Linked DNA regions of Homo sapiens. Each later gene encodes a partner of the first gene's protein in a complex. Links are inferred from orthologs where the notes say so. Each region holds a gene or a part of one and is shown on either strand. Other genes may lie near its edges.

Evidence for each region.
Region 2: the proteins of NPR1 (region 1) and NPPA are in contact, whole or in part, in a crystal structure (PDB 7BRG), measured with the Rattus norvegicus proteins. The link is inferred for Homo sapiens from one-to-one orthologs. Residues at the interface, in NP_036745.1 of Rattus norvegicus: Asp90, Val115, Tyr116, Ala119, Pro120, Arg123, Ala139, Leu140, Gly141, Ile142, Val144, Tyr148, Tyr182, Asp184, Leu186, Gly187, Asp188, Asp189, Arg190, Phe193, Phe194, Val196, Glu197, Tyr200, Met201, Arg204, His213, Gln214, Glu215, Phe216; in NP_036744.1 of Rattus norvegicus: Arg126, Ser127, Ser128, Cys129, Phe130, Gly131, Gly132, Arg133, Ile134, Asp135, Arg136, Ile137, Gly138, Ala139, Gln140, Ser141, Gly142, Leu143, Gly144, Cys145, Asn146, Ser147, Phe148, Arg149, Tyr150.

Annotation. Positions count from the first base shown.
Region 1 is NC_000001.11:153,681,469-153,688,732, reverse strand, and holds part of NPR1 (atrial natriuretic peptide receptor 1 precursor), read right to left. Parts: intron 7,030-7,264; coding exon 6,894-7,029; intron 6,236-6,893; coding exon 6,144-6,235; intron 5,358-6,143; coding exon 5,222-5,357; intron 4,994-5,221; coding exon 4,909-4,993; intron 3,770-4,908; coding exon 3,649-3,769; intron 2,928-3,648; coding exon 2,853-2,927; intron 2,611-2,852; coding exon 2,533-2,610; intron 2,088-2,532; coding exon 1,983-2,087; intron 1,718-1,982; coding exon 1,646-1,717; intron 1,534-1,645; coding exon 1,377-1,533; intron 1,144-1,376; coding exon of another isoform or gene 1,121-1,143; exon of another isoform or gene 1,100-1,120; coding exon 944-1,099; intron 681-943; coding exon 512-680; intron 1-511. UniProt on the Homo sapiens protein: Receptor for the atrial natriuretic peptide NPPA/ANP and the brain natriuretic peptide NPPB/BNP which are potent vasoactive hormones playing a key role in cardiovascular homeostasis.
Region 2 is NC_000001.11:11,845,161-11,852,940, forward strand, and holds NPPA (natriuretic peptides A preproprotein), read right to left. Parts: upstream 2,624-7,780; 5' UTR 2,525-2,623; coding exon 2,402-2,524; exon of another isoform or gene 2,280-2,401; coding exon 1,953-2,279; intron 855-1,952; coding exon 849-854; 3' UTR 549-848; downstream 1-548.

The DNA.
Region 1 (7,264 bases):
GGACATTTTGTTCATCTTTGTTGAACCCAGTGAGTTAGAAGGAGGTAAAGGAGGTGGAGAATGACAAGGGTCAATTGCGGACAAAGTGATGTCCACAGAAGGGTGTGTCTGGAGGAACTGGGCCTGGTGGGCACGCTGGGGAAGGGAAATCAAGGGGTGGGGCAGGAGCTCCCGTGGAGGGCCAAGAGCCTACAGGGCAGGAGGCGGGAGGCCCATCTATCCTACACACTGCTGAGAAGTCTAGAGGCCAGCAAGGCGAGTGGGCAGGAAGGGTGTGGGGTGTCGATGGTGGAGGGAAGGGGCATGAATGGCAGGGGACTGTGGGGACAGCTGAGTCATGCTGTACTTGCGAAGAGGGTCATGAGGCTGTGCTGAGCTGGAGCTGACTATGTACAGGGAGGAGGTGAGTGGTCTCCCTCTGCCACTGCTGGGATAAGCCAGAGCCAGAAGCATTAGGTAAATGGTGGCTGTGGAGGAAGGGCCTGGGGGATCCATGACAAACACCAGGGACCTGTTAAATTTGCGCAACGTCAGGCGGATCTGCTGGAATGGTGGCCTCTCCTGTGGGTCCTCAGCCCAGCACCGCTGCATGAGCAGCCCCAACTCCTCCAGGTGACTCTGCAGGGCCAGGGAGGGCCGGAAGGGGGGCTGCTCACCCCGAGTCACCCGCTCGATGATCTCTGTATTGGGGGGGTAGAGGAGCTGAGGGGTGGGGCTGGCCAAGGGCCTAGTGAGAGACTGGGGCAACCAGCTGAGATGGCAGGGGAAGTCCAAGACCAAGGCATGGGGGCGGGGGACTGGTCACTGGCAGCAATGGGTCAAAGGGTGGTGACTGAACCCCATTACAGAAGGAAGGTGTGGTGGTGCTGCCAGGGGACCCTCTCCCTGGGGCTGGGGTTCGTTGAGACTGTGGCTGGGTTTAAGGAAGGTGTGCTCCTCTCACCTTTGGGGCTCAGGTCCAAACCTTCCACGTGGAAGACCCCACTCCTCAGGGCAATCTCCTGAAGGATGATCCCAAAGCTGTATACGTCACCAGCCTGGGAGCCCCGCACAGGGGGTGAAGCCATTCGCAGGAGCTCAGGGGCCGTCCACAGCTTTTCTGTGGGTCAGAGGTCGGTAGTCACCGAGTGAGGGAGCCCAAAGCTAAGGGGTGAGGGGGAAACAAGGGTGTGGCCGAAACTGATCTGGATGCATCACAGAGTGTTAGAGCTAGAGGAGGCCTTAGAAACCACTTCGTCTGGCCTTCCCTTTTTCATGGGTGAATGAATTGAGGCTGGAGTCAGGACAAGCATGCCCAAGCCCATCAGAGGCCTTGCATCAGTCTCCCTACTGGGTGGTGCTGGGGGCAGGTGTTAGGTTCAAGAGTCAAGGCTCACTGGCATAAACGGTGTGTCCTTGCTCTGGGTCCAGGTCCCTGAAGCTCTCCAGCCCATAGTCGGTGATCTTGAGCACAAAGCGCCCATCTACCACGCAGTTGGATGACTTGAGGTTCCCATGGGAACAGATAGCCCCATTGTGTAGAAACAGCATGCCCTGGAAATGTGAGTGGGCAGAGGTATTGGCCAGGAGTGGGACCTACACCCGTGGCCAGGAGAAGCATGCCTGGCCCCTGCTCTACACATCCAATAGGTGCTTAGGGGCATACCTTGACGATGTCATTGGTGAGTGAGTACCGGAACATCCAGTCCAGGGTGATGCTCTCATTCTCCAGAATGTCCTGCTGGGGCAATAAGAGTCAGACCAATCCCCTGCAGATCCCCCTGGGAGTTGGAGGAGGGTGCAGGGTCCTACTGATGTGAACTGGTAGAACAGGACAAAACTTTGGATTGACTCTAGTGCCACTGCCCTTCCCCAACTCCCATTTTTACAGATGGGGCCAGAAAGGTCAGAAAGAGGGCGAGGCATGCCTGGGGTCTTATGGCCAGTCAGGGGCAGAGCCAGGGCTAGAACCCAGGTTTCTTGACACCCCTTGTCCCCCTCACCTGCAGGCTCCCACGGGGACAGTACTCTGTGAGGATGCAGATATTGGGGGGGTCGGTGCAGGCTCCCACAAACCTGGTCAGGTGTTCATTCTGCACATCCCGCATCTGCAAGTGGGACCAGCATCAGGAGCTTGACAGAGACCTCGCTCCTCACCAAGCTGCTCACTAGCTTCAGGGACCCTCACTCTTCTTAACTCCTTATTCACTTTCTGCAACCATCACTAAGATCTTCCCTGGTGATTCCCACCCATGTCCTTTAGCCCACCCTCCCCAGAATCTGCTCCTACTCCCTCTGCATCCTAAGCCCTCTCTCCCCCAGGGACATCACATATGGCCCCTCAAGATTCCTCCAGGTTATCTCCAGTGGTCTCTTCTCCTAGCTTAGGATACCCCCACTCCCACCCACAAGATGAAGGTCCATCCCAGGGCTCCAGTCCCTGCCCCTTTCTTGGGGTACCCTGAGGTCCCTCCATAACTAGTTCTGTTGGCCAGTCTCCCTTGCGTCCCCGAGGGCCCCTTCTCCATGCCACTGCCTCACTCCCCACATTACATGCTTCAGTTCAAACAGGACTTTTCGTGTCAGCTCAATGCGTTTACGGTTCACACGTTTCACAGCCACGAGGTTGCCCTGGGCATGGAATGGAGACTGTCACTGTGAAGAGCATGGTCCCATGTCCTGGGAATTCCAGCTGCTCCCGACAGCCCATCCCTGCCCTCAGGACCCTCACTTGTTCCCAATAGCCCACCCCCAGGGCCCCCATCTGCTGCTCCCCACCAGCTTACTCCTTCCCTCAGAACCCCCCACCAGTCCTCCATCAGAGTACACTCCTGCCCCAGTCCCAAGGCCCAGTGATCTTTCCCCAGGCCCACCTTATAATATGCTGTCTTGGCAAAGACTTGGAACTGGCCCTCTGTGGTTAGCAGGGAGCCGTAATTGGAGCCTCTCTGAAAGGAGGGAGAGCAGGAGGAATGGTCAGCCGGTGGGCCCAGTCTGCATCCTGATTGCTTGTGCTCTGGTCTTTATTTCCCTGCCTTATCCTGCCTTATCTTTGTGTCACCCTTCCTTTTTGTTGTTGGGTTTTTTTTTGAGATGTAGTATCATTGTGTCATCCAGGCTGGAGTGCAGTGGTGCTATCCTAGGTCACTGCCGCCTCAGACTCCTGGGCTCAGATGATCCTTTCACCTCAGCCTCCAGAGTAGCTGGGACTACAGGTATGCGCCACCATGCCCTGCTAATCTTTGTATTCTTTGTAGAGACGATGTCTTGCTCTGTTGCCCAGGCTGGTCTTGAACTCCCAGGCACAAGCAATCCTCCTGCCTCGGTCTCCCAAAGTGCTGGGATTGCAGATGTGAGCCACTGTGCCTGGCCCACCCTGCTTTATGTTCCACATCATAAAATTTCCTCCTCATTTACTTTTTTTTTTTTTAAAGTGTTTTCACAGGTACTATCTCCTCTGACCTTTAAAAGAGCCCTGTGAGGGAGGCTCTGCTGCTGTAATCATCATCTGAGACAGTCTCGGAGAGGGACTATGAGTCGCTCAAGGTCACACAGCAAGTGAAAGCAGAGCTGGGACTAGAATCCTGCTCCCTTACCTATCCCTCAGGCACTGCCCCTTGTACCCACCTCTCCTTTATTGCCCCCCAACACAAACACCAGCGTTCTTACCCCGCTCAGGGTCAGCCGGCTGCCTGCACTCCGCAGGTGCCTCTCAAGGCTACTGGGCTCAACGTCCTCCCAGCGCACCCGCCACAGCTCCGAGGCCAGTTCCTTCTCCAGCTGCATCTTCCTGGGATACGAAGGCTGCATCTGAGCCTGTGGCTGAGCCGCTGACCCAGGGCAGGGTGCTCAGCAGCCCCTCCTCAGAGCCGTGGGACCACACCATGCACTCAGAGATGGAGGGGGAATTCTATCCTCTGGACTGAGAATCAGGATGGCTGGGGGAAATTCTGCCTTACTGGGGACCTTGGGGGAATCACCTCAATGTCCTTACTTGGGAATGAGGCCGCAATATCTATTTCATTCTTAACTATTATAAGAATGAAAAGAAATAGTGAACATGAGGCCAGGCACAGTGGCTCATGCCTGTAATCCCAGCACTTTGGGAGGCCAAGGTGGGTGGATCATGAGGTCAAGAGATCGAGACCATCCTGGCCAACATGGTGAAACCCTGTCTCTACTAAAAATACAAAAATTAGCTGAGCGTGGTGGCATGTGCCTGTAGTCCCAGCTACATGGGAGGCTGAGGCAGGAGAATTGCTTGAAACTGGGAGGCGGAGGTTGCAGTGAGCCTAGATCATGCCACTGCACTCCAGTCTGGCAACAGAGCGAGACTCCGTCTCAAAAAAAAAAAAAAAAAAAAAAAAGAAAGAAAGAAATAGTGTACGTGGAAGTGCCTGGCACACATTATATGCTCAACCAGCAGTGATTTTTCTCCCCTCCCTCCTTGCTTTTGTATATCATTAACTCCTCCTGTACTTCATTTTAGCCTCCACTGGACGGCAGGAACAAGGCTCATTCAGCTCCCTTCTCCATTCTAGGTTGGGCACCTGGCACACACCAGGGCTCACCCTCCTCAGCTAACATGGGCATGATTGCAAAGGTTCAGAAAGTTGCTTCCTATCTGGCCTGCAAGAGTAGCAAGGAAAACCAGTCCACGCCCCTATGATGTCACCCATCAACTTCTCTGCTTCTTGGATCTTTCTGACTCTCCTTGGCCATTCCTATCCTTGTCTCCTCCCCTCGCCCTGCCATTCCCTTCTCTTTCTTTCTCCTCTGGCTTTTAAGCCTCCTTTCTTCCTCATCTCCCTTGGTTTTCCCCTGGTGCCCCTTCACCCCTGCCCTCTTCCCTCTGGGTCCCCACCGCCTCCTCTGCTATTGGTTCTCCGGGTCCCCCAGCCTCACTCAACCCCCCACATCACAGCTCACCTGTATATGAAGAAGGAGACAATCAGAATGCCGAGCAAGGAGAGGCTGCCCACCAAAGCCAGCACCTCCAGGGTGGAAAGGTGATCTGCAGGAGAGAGTCCATATTGCAGCAAGAGAGATTTGGGTTAGACAGCAGGAGGAAGAACTTTCTAATAGTCCATCAGTGAACTGGGATGATGGATGAAGGGAAGAAAAAGGCAGGAGTCATTCTCCAGAAAGCCCTCAGCATGGGACAGGAGCACCTACTCGACTGTGCTTAGGGGAAGGATGCAGCATCTCTGGGATGGAGGCCTGGAAGGCAAGGGGCAGTCACCTTGGTTGCATGCTGGGTCTTCGTTGTCAAAGCCACATTTGGGGATGTCAGGAGGAGGGTACCCCAGGGGCCAGTTCAGTTTGCGCCCCGACACAGCCACCAGCTCTTGGGAAGTCCCATTGTAGTTCAGTACAACCTAAGGGAGAGCAGGAGTGGTGGCTAGGCCAGGGCCTGCGGGGAAGGCATGCTGTGAGTGCAGCAGTCTCACCTCCCACCTACCCCAGCTCTGCTTCTAGAGCCTACATATATATCTGGGTTGTCACCTGCTTACCAAGTCCCCACTGCAACTGGACACAGGACCTCATACCACACACATAGTACTCAAGTGGAAACACCTGAAAACTATCAAGGGGTTTATAAAGAAAACTCCATTTAGAACCCGATCTCTACACTCAGGGAGTTTATAATCTTGGTTGAAGTACCAACCAAGCATTGATTTTTCTCTACTTATTTTCTTGGTAGAAAACAGGAGAAGGTAATGTTCACCTTAGCCTACATTCGCAGGCCCAGTCCATGTGCCCGTCTTCCAGGAGGCCTTCTCTGGATGACCTGTCCCTTGTGGCCATTGGCCTCAGCGCCTTCCTGTCCCTGCTCGCTTGCAGAGCTGTGTAATGTGCATCTTTCACAGCCCTGTCTCTGCTGGGAGGCGGTCCTGCCTGCCTCCCTTCGGAGCTCCCCGAGGGCAGGCTTGTGCTCCCTCCTCAGGCATGGGGCTCCCCAAGTGTGATGCCTGTGAGTCCCTATCATTCTGGTGGCTTCCCCAGACTGGAGCTGGGTCTGTTTTATCCAGGGCTCTTGTAAGTGTCCAGGCATGGTGGAATGGCTACAGGATAAACAGGTGCCCTGGCAGGGCTGTGGGGGGGAAGTAGGAGGGTGAGATGTCATTTGGAATTGGCACTGTCTTCTGGGTGCACAAACTTACCCTGAAGGCACCATTCTCGGGATCCATATCCCAGAGGGAGAAGTCTGTTTCCCGATCGCCACTGCTATCAATTTTCAGGTATCCTGTCACACCTGAGGACATGGGGGAAGATGACTATGTTTGAGAGAATAGAAGTTCAGGGGTGCCCCACTTCATCTCTTCATCCTCTAATCTTTTTTGCCTTGCCTTCCAAACATACATGTATACAGAATGATAGTAAATGGTAAAACGGCCGGGCACTGTGGCTCATGCTTGTAATCCCAGCACTTTGGGAGGCTGAGGCGGGCAGATCACCTGACGTCAGGAGTTCAAGACCAGCCTGACCAACGTGGTGAAACCCTGTCTCTACTAAAAAAAATACAAAAAATTAGCCAAGTGTTGGTGGAGGGCACCTGTAATCCCAGCTACTCAGGAGGCTGAGGCAGGAGAATTGCTTGAACCTGGGAGGCGGAGGTTGAAGTGAGCCGAGATTGCACCACCACACTCCAGTCTTGGGGACAGAGCGAGACTCCATCTCAAAAAAAAAAGAAAAAAGAAAAAGAAAGGTAAAAGAACTCAGTGCCCAGCAGGGATGATTGAGATTGGACACTTTGTAGGACTTCTGAGGGATGGGCCTGAAAAAAGCTGTGGAGGAAAAGGCTGGTGTGCATAGGTAACTGCTGCAGGACAATAGGCTTCTCATGGCTTGACACTGGGCACCTGGGATTCATCCCCCAAGGCAGCCCATTCCAGCCACCTCCAGGCCCTGACCTTGAAAGCTTCGGTTCCACATCCGCTGAGTGATGTTCTCCCCATCAGTAACAGTTCCCCCATGTGCCAGAGTCTCCGTCACTGCCTGGATATAGAGCAGGAGCCCGTCGTGGAAGGATGCTGGGATGGTGTTCACCTGTAGGGGCAAACAGAGGTCGGCTGGGGTGGGCATATGAAGGGCATGGAGGTGGGAGCTGTGGGGAAGGGAACAAGAGGCACTGGGATTTTGGAAGAGGATGGGAGAAAATAACACCCCTATATCACAGGGAGATTTTACTATTTAAACGATGCCTTTGGATTAGCATCACTTCCTGAATCCTACTAGGTAGACAGGGCAGGATGTATCGTCTCCATATTACTGATGATGACCT
Region 2 (7,780 bases), about 140 Mb from region 1:
TGCAGCCTCCACCTCCCAGGCTCAAGCCATCCTCCCACTTCGGCCTCCTGAATAGCTGGAACTACAGGTGCACATCATCATGCCTGGCTAATTTTTAAATTTTTTGTAGAGATGGGGTCTCACTCTATTGCTCAGGCTGGTCTTGAACTCCTGGGCTCAAGTGATTTGCCCACCTTGGCCTCCCAAAATGCTGGGATTACAGGAGTGAGCCACCACACCCGGCCTGCTCAGCTTTTAAATTCAACACTCTGCCTACTCTTTTCAAAACTAAAAGTACCATTACCTTAGCTGTAGAACCTAACTCTCTCGAAATGTACCAGAGAAAATCTAATTAATACTCTCATTTTCTGAATGTTCCCCCCTAAAAACAACAAAAACCCCACTAGGAGTGGAATTTGAGGCCTCCCCAACCACCTACCAAAAAAGGAGGGTGAAATGAAAGGAAGAAGAAAAACTCAGCATTCTTTCCTCTGACAAAGAGTAAAACGACAAGGAATATCGGCCTGAATTCTCTTCCCAAGAAGAAAGAAAGCACACCAACGCAGGCATTTGTCTTCTGTCCATGGTGCTGAAGTTTATTCACTTTCAAACCACTTTCAGTAACAGGTGAGGTTCTACCTTAAAATTTAATGCATGGGGTGGGAGAGGCGAGGAAGTCACCATCAAACCACTTTATCTACAGTTAGCATAAGATGTGAGAAGTGTTGACAGGAAGCTGCAGCTTAGATGGGATGATCACAACTCCATGGCAACAAGATGACACAAATGCAGCAGAGACCCCAGGGGACAGGAGCCTCTTGCAGTCTGTCCCTAGGCCCAGCCCTGCTTGTCCTCCCTGGCTGTTATCTTCAGTACTGCAAAGAGAACACAGACATATCTGGCTTGGTGACCTGGCTGTCCTGGAAAAGTCAGCTTCATGTATGAGTGTGCCCATCCTCTGAACTTGATTACTGACCACCTGCTTCCCACCGGCCCCCACCCCAGCCTGATGACCCTCTGAGCTTCATGAATTGATAAGCAAGTTACTCATCAGAGTAAATTTCACTTAAGCCCTTCAGGATCTTGCAATTCTGGGGAGGAATATGAACTGCTAATCAGCCATGCAAAGATAACTTGGCTCTATGAATATTTTAATTTCCCAGTGCTAGTGGCAGTTGCTTTTTTTTTTTTTTTTTTTGAGACGGAGTCTTGCTCTGTCGCCCAGGCTGGAGTGCAGTGGTGCCATCTCTGCTCACTGCAAGCTCCGCCTCCCGGGTTCACGCCATTCTCCTGCCTCAGCCTCCGGAGTAGCTAGGACTTACAGGCGCCTGCCACCACGCCTGGCTAATTTTTTGTATTTTTAGTAGAGACGGGGTTTCACCGTGTTAGCCAGGATGGTCTCCATCTCCTGACCTCGTGATCCACCCGCCTTGGCCTCCCAAAGCGCTGGGATTACAGGCGTGAGCCACCGTGCCTGGCCTTTTTTTTTTTTTTTTGAGACAGTCTCGCTCTATCACCTAGGCTGGACTGCAGTGGCGTGATCTCTGCTCACTGCAACCTCTGCCTCCTGGGTTCAAGTGATTCTCCTGCCTCAGCCTCCCAAGTAGCTGAGAGTACAGGTGCCCGCCACCACACCCAGCTAATTTTTGTATTTTTAGTAGAGCTGGGGTTTCACCATGTTGGCCAGGATAGTCTTGATCTCTTGACCTCATGATCCGCCTGCCTCGGCCTCCCAAAGTGCTGGGATTACAGGCGTGAGCCACTGTGCCCAGCCCCCCCCCCTTTTTTTTTTAAGCATTTTCTCAGCAGACTAGCTAAGGACAATAGATGGCATGTCCTGACACCCATGGGGCACTCTGGGTGTTGGGGCAGAAACTTGAGAGGGAATGAGCTTCTGCATTGGTCCCTTTCCTGCTGAAGGTGTCTCCCAGTAGTGTCCATCCCATCCCATTTCCATCCCCAGTTCCTCTTACCCGGAAGCTGTTACAGCCCAGTCCGCTCTGGGCTCCAATCCTGTCCATCCTGCCCCCGAAGCAGCTGGATCTCCGCAGGCTCCGAGGGGCAGTGAGCAGCGCCCTCAGCTTGCTTTTTAGGAGGGCAGATCGATCAGAGGAGTCCCAGGGGCCCCGCCCGAGGGCACCTCCATCTCTCTGGGCTGGGCTGACTTCCCCGGTCCAGGGAGGCACCTCAGGGAGGGGGCTGAGAGCAGCCCCCGCTTCTTCATTCGGCTCACTGAGCACTTGTGGGGGCACGACCTCATCTTCTAAAGGCATCTTTTCTTCCAAATGGTCCAGCAAATTCTTTAGAAAAGGAAAATACAGGGAAAGGGATAAACCTCACTGACTTGGAGGAAATCAAGAGGAGTGAGCACAGCATCAGAAAGCCCCCTGGCCCCAGACTGCACCCGCTTTCCTGGCCCTACCTTGAAATCCATCAGGTCTGCGTTGGACACGGCATTGTACATGGGATTAGCTCTGGTCTGACCTAGGAGCTGGAATGCCAGTAAAAGGAGGAAGCTCACGGTGGTGGTGGAGAAGGAGCTCATGCTGGCGTCGTCAAGGAGCAATCCACTGCTTGCTGCTCTGTCTCTCCCCTCTGGTTCCTCTCTGGTTCCCCTCTCTTGGCCTACGTCTGTCCCTGTCTCCCAGCTGCCCAGTGCCGCCTCTTTTTATAGCCCCCCAGCTCTCCAAGCACGCAGGAGAGACAGAACCCTCCCCATTCTGTCACTTGCAGTGATAAAGCTGCCAAGTGAGAAGCCAGCAGGAGATGCCCTTTTAAAGTTATCATCCCGCAGGGCTTGTCACAGCCCCTCTCTGCCTTGGGCAGCCCCAACAGCCCCCCAGACCCTCAGCTGCAAGAGCCGCATTCTTACTGATTTGACTCAAGAGGCTCCCACTTCAAAGGTGTGAGAAGAGTAAAAAAGAGTCCTTGGTTATCTCACCGCCGTGCCTCAGGATTCTTTCTCCTCGACGCTGGTACCCGTGCGGGGAAACAGAGGGTGACGCTTGGCTGGTGCCCAGCTCCCCTGGTTTGTTTGTGGCTCAGCTGTCAGGGCCTCCAAATAAGGGTGGAGAGGAGGAAATGGCAGGCAGCCAGCAGCCCGAGACAAATGGATCCAGATGCTCAAGCTGGCCTCACACCTGCCTCATCCGCCACGTGGGCAGACCTCTGGCCTCAGACAGGGCTGCCTTCACCCCTGGCAGTCCCTCTCCATGGTCAGGCGAAAGGAAGTTATTTTTTAGTATATAAAGTCAGCTGAGAACCAAATGTGATGAAGCTCCCAGGAATCCAACCCCCAAATAGAAATAGCAAGAAAAGGCGGGGGAGCACAAGCATCCTCTCTCCAAAGCTCCTCCTCTTCCATGTCCCCCGCGACCCTCCTCCAGCATGCTGCGGGGACAGGCTTAGAGGACGCAGCCAATTTCATTTCTTCCGTTGCTGTTTATAGATGCTCAGACTCTTCGTGTCTGAAGTTTGTTAACATCCCCCTGCCCTTCCTGGGCTTGTGCCCGTGGCAACTTGACCGATGGAGGAAGGGAGGTGGGGGTGAAGGAGGTATAGTCAGTTTCCCTCAATGCCTTCTACATCCTTCCCTGAGGACGTGGCAAGTGGCAAGTGACCGAGCCACCAAGGTCACAATTTCCCTGGCCCCCAAAAGGGAAATAACAGGCAGCAAGTCTGTCTATGTTTAATGAATGGCCTGTTTGCTAAGCACTGAACTCAGTGTTAGCCATTACCATTCAATGCAACGTATACTGGGGGAAAACTCTAAATTTGAAGGGCTGAGAGACCAGTACTGTAGCCCAAAACAAACCAGTTGCATACCTCTTCGCAGCCTTACTTTCCTTGTGTGTAAAATGAGAAAGAATGTTAAAAACCGGCCGGGTGCAGTGGCTCACACGTATAATCCCAGCACTTTGGGAGGCTAAGGTGGGTGGATCACCTGAGGCCAGGAGTTTGAGACCAGCCCTACCAACATGGCAAAACTCTGTCTCTACTAAAAATATAAAAATTAGCTGGGTGTGGTGGCATGTGCCTGTAATCCCCGCTACTAGGGAGGCTGAGGTAAAAGAATTGCTTGACCTTGGGAGGCGGAGGTTGTAGTGAACCAAGATCGCACCACTGCACTCTAGCCTGGGCAACAGAGTGGGACTCGGTCTCAAAAAATAAATAAATAAATGAATGAATAAAGTAGAAATCTTCCCTGCCTACCTTGCAGGATTGTTGTGGAGCCCAAGTGAGCTGAGAACGTGTCAACACATAACAAGTGTGCAGTGCTGAGTCCCTGCAAGATGGCCATCATAGTTGTCTTTATTGGTTGCTTGTAGCATGCCTAGCACTGTGCTGAGAACTTTATGGAAATGATTTTATTTTGATCACCATCCCCAGGTGGTAGATAGCATTGTCCTTGCTTACAAGGGAACAGAACTGAGCCCGAGAGGCTATGCCACTTGCCCAAGGCCACTAGGTGCCTAAGTGGCGGAACCAGGACTGGATCCCCAGGTCTGACGCTGATGTCTGTATCCTAGCCTATTTCACGTAGAGAGCTGCCACCTTACCTCTTAGCTGCATTCCCCAATTAAACCCCCATTCCCCATCTTTCAGATGCCCCAAGGGAGCTCCTTCACCTTCCCCATGCCCCTGGGGCTGTAGCTTTTTTGTGCACTTACCAAGTCTGTGTGTGTTGGCTGCTCTCCTGATCTATTTCTACACCGAATGTGTTTTAATCCACTCCTTAGAAGCTCAGAAAATGTGTGTTGAGTGACCAGCTCTGTCCTGGCTGGCCAGATCTGTCCCCAGGTGTGCTGACCTCATGACTGACCAGGTGAACAGGACGTTGTGCAGCCATAAGGTTGGAAATCAGGGCAGCAAGTGACTAGAGGTCACAAGAGGTATCCAGGGTGATATTATTCTAAGATAAGATAAAAGGGACCCTCTTTGGCAAGCCTTGGGGTTTGTCTGTAGGTGGGGATCTAATATTTCATGGGGTGGTTAGAAGCAGCCTGTAGGAGTGAGAGAGAAGAAAAGTAACAGGCACAGAAAGCCAGGCCCACCTCCATCCCCACCTCTTCCACGGCTGAAAAATCAAAAGCCTTTTATTTCCTTATCACTGGAAAGAAGTCATCTTAGTCATACAACGGGTGGAGCACTGCAAACGGGTGGGAGAATCCAGAATCCGGGTGTTGCCAGATTCCAGCCCAGAGTTTGGCTTCACGATTCTCTGGGGGTATGCCTTGGGCTGCTGCAGGGAGCCCCAGAGTGTGCAGTGTCACCCGCGTGCAGAGCTGGCACGAAATCCCCAACACATTCGTGGCATGATTCTGCGGGACCCAGATGGTCTAAAGCAGAAGCCCCAGTTGGGAAAAATTGGTTCATACTTAGGGATGATCGTTGCTGACTTTGAAAATGATGTTTTGTTTCTTTGGTTTAATATGGAGGTCACTAAGGGCTGAAGACTGGGGACAGTTTCCCTAGAAAACAAAGCCCAAGGCAAAAGGTCACTCGCTAAAGTTTTGTGGGGGTTCCTATTCAAAGGAAGCAAGAGTGAGGCGGAGTGAGAGGCTGTTTTAGTTAACTACTGCCGGGTAACAAGTCACCCCAGACTGGGCGTGGTGACTCACGCCTGTCATTCCAACACTTTGGGAGGATCATTTGAACCCAGGAGTTCAAGACCACCCTGGGCAACATGGCAAAAACCCATTTGTACTAAAAATACAAAAAATTAGCTGGGTGCAGTGGTGCGTGCCTGTCATCCCAGCTACCCTGGACACTGAGGTGGGAGAATCACCACAGCCCAAGAAGTTGAGGCTGCCGTGAGCCATGACCAAGCCACTGCACTCCAGCCTGGGTGACAGAGTGAGAACCTGTCTCAAAAAGAACAAAAGCCAGGCATGGTGGCTCACGCCTGTAATACTAGCCCTTTGGGAGGCTGAGGCAGGAAGATCTCTTGAGCTCAGGAGTTCCAGACAAGACTGAGCAACATAAGGAACCCTGTTTTTAATAAATAAACAAACAAAAAACAAAACAAAAACCAAGTCACCCCAAACCTTAGCAACTTCACACAATGCACATCTATTATCTCATCACCTCTGTGCTCTGTGGATCAGGGATCTGGCCCTGCTTGGCCTGGGGCCCCTGGGCAATGAAGGCGTTGGCTGCGGCTGCAGTCATCTCAAGGCTTGGCTGGGGGAGGATAGGCTTTCAGGCTCACTCCTGCAGCTGTTGGCAGAAGCCACAGGTTCTCGCTGGCTGGTGGCTGGTGGAAACATCAGTTTCTTGCCACGTGGGTCTCTCCATGGAGACGCAACTGTCTTCTATTAGGTCAGGCGAGAAAGAGAAGTTACGGAAGAAGCCACAGTCTCTTTGTTACCTAATCTCAGAAGTGACATCCCATTCTTCATGTTGTACTGTTCTGTGTCCCTTAGAAGTGAGTCTCTGGGTCTCACTCACACTCTAAGGGAGGGGGTTACAGAGGGTATGAAGACCAGGAGGTTGGGGATCTCTGGGGGCCTTCTGAAAGCACTGCCCACACAAATAGAGAAGGAAGGAAAGCAAATGTAAGGTGACATTGGCTGAGTGCAGTGGCTCATGCCTGTAATCCCAGCACTTTGGGAGGCTGAGGTGGGTGGATCACTTGAGGTCAGGAGCTCGAGACCAGCCTGACCAACATGGTGAAACCCCGTCTCTACTAAAAATACAAAAATTAGCCAGGCATGGTGGTGTGCACCTGTAGTCCCAGCTACTCGGGAGGCTGAGGCAGGAGAATCATGAAGGGCAGGGCTCTGCAGGAAGGTTGACTTATTTGGGAGTGTCTTAGTTTAAGTTCTCTTGAACCGGAGACAGATATTCCAGTATTAGTGGCTGATCTTGGAGACAAACCCAGGAAATGTCAGTGGAGAGTGGGGAAGTGATACAGAAAAAGTAGAAGTCAGTGACCACCTCTGGCAGTAGGTGCTTAATCCTCCTCCCACAGAGAACTCCAAACAGGTTCTCTGTTTGGAGAACAGAGACACATGCCACCTATGACTCAAGGGAGCTGGGTGTTTGTTTTATTTTATTTTATTTTATTTTATTTTTGAAACAGAGTCTTGCTCTGTCACCCAGGCTGGAGTGAAGTGGTAATTTCAGCCTTGACTTCCCGGCTCAGTGATCCTCCCATTTCAGCCTCCCGAGTAGCTGGACTACAGATGTTCACCACCATACCCGGCTAATTTTTTTTCTTTTATTTTTAGTAGAGACGAGGTCTCTCTTTGTTGCCCAGGCCGGTCTCGAACATCTGAACTCAATTTATCCTCCCACCTCAGCCTCCCAAAGTGCTGGGATTACAAGTGTAAGCTGCTGCACCAGGCGTGAGCTGGGTCTTTAAATGCCAACTCCTGGCCAGGTGCAGTGGCTCACACCTGTAATCCCAGCACTTTGGGAGGCTAAGGTAGGAGGATTGCTTGAGGCCGTGAGTTCAAAATCAGCCTTGCAAACATAGTGAGACTCTCCATCTCTACAGAAAAAAAAAATTATTTTAATTAGCCAGACATGGCAGCATACTCCTGTAATCCCAGCTACTTGGGAGGCTGACGTGGGAGGATCGCTTGAGCCCAAGAGTTTGAGGTTATAGTGAGCTATGATCATGCCACTGCACTCCAGCCTTGGTGACAGAGCAAGACTCTGTCTCTATTTAAAAAAAAAAAAAAAAAAAAAGCCAGCTCCTGTCAGATGTTGGTTGAGCACTGCTCAGGTCAATGTCAATTCCCCAGCACTTCCTGCCGGCCCCAAGGAGCTGAGTGGGCTGCGGCTGCCAGAGAAA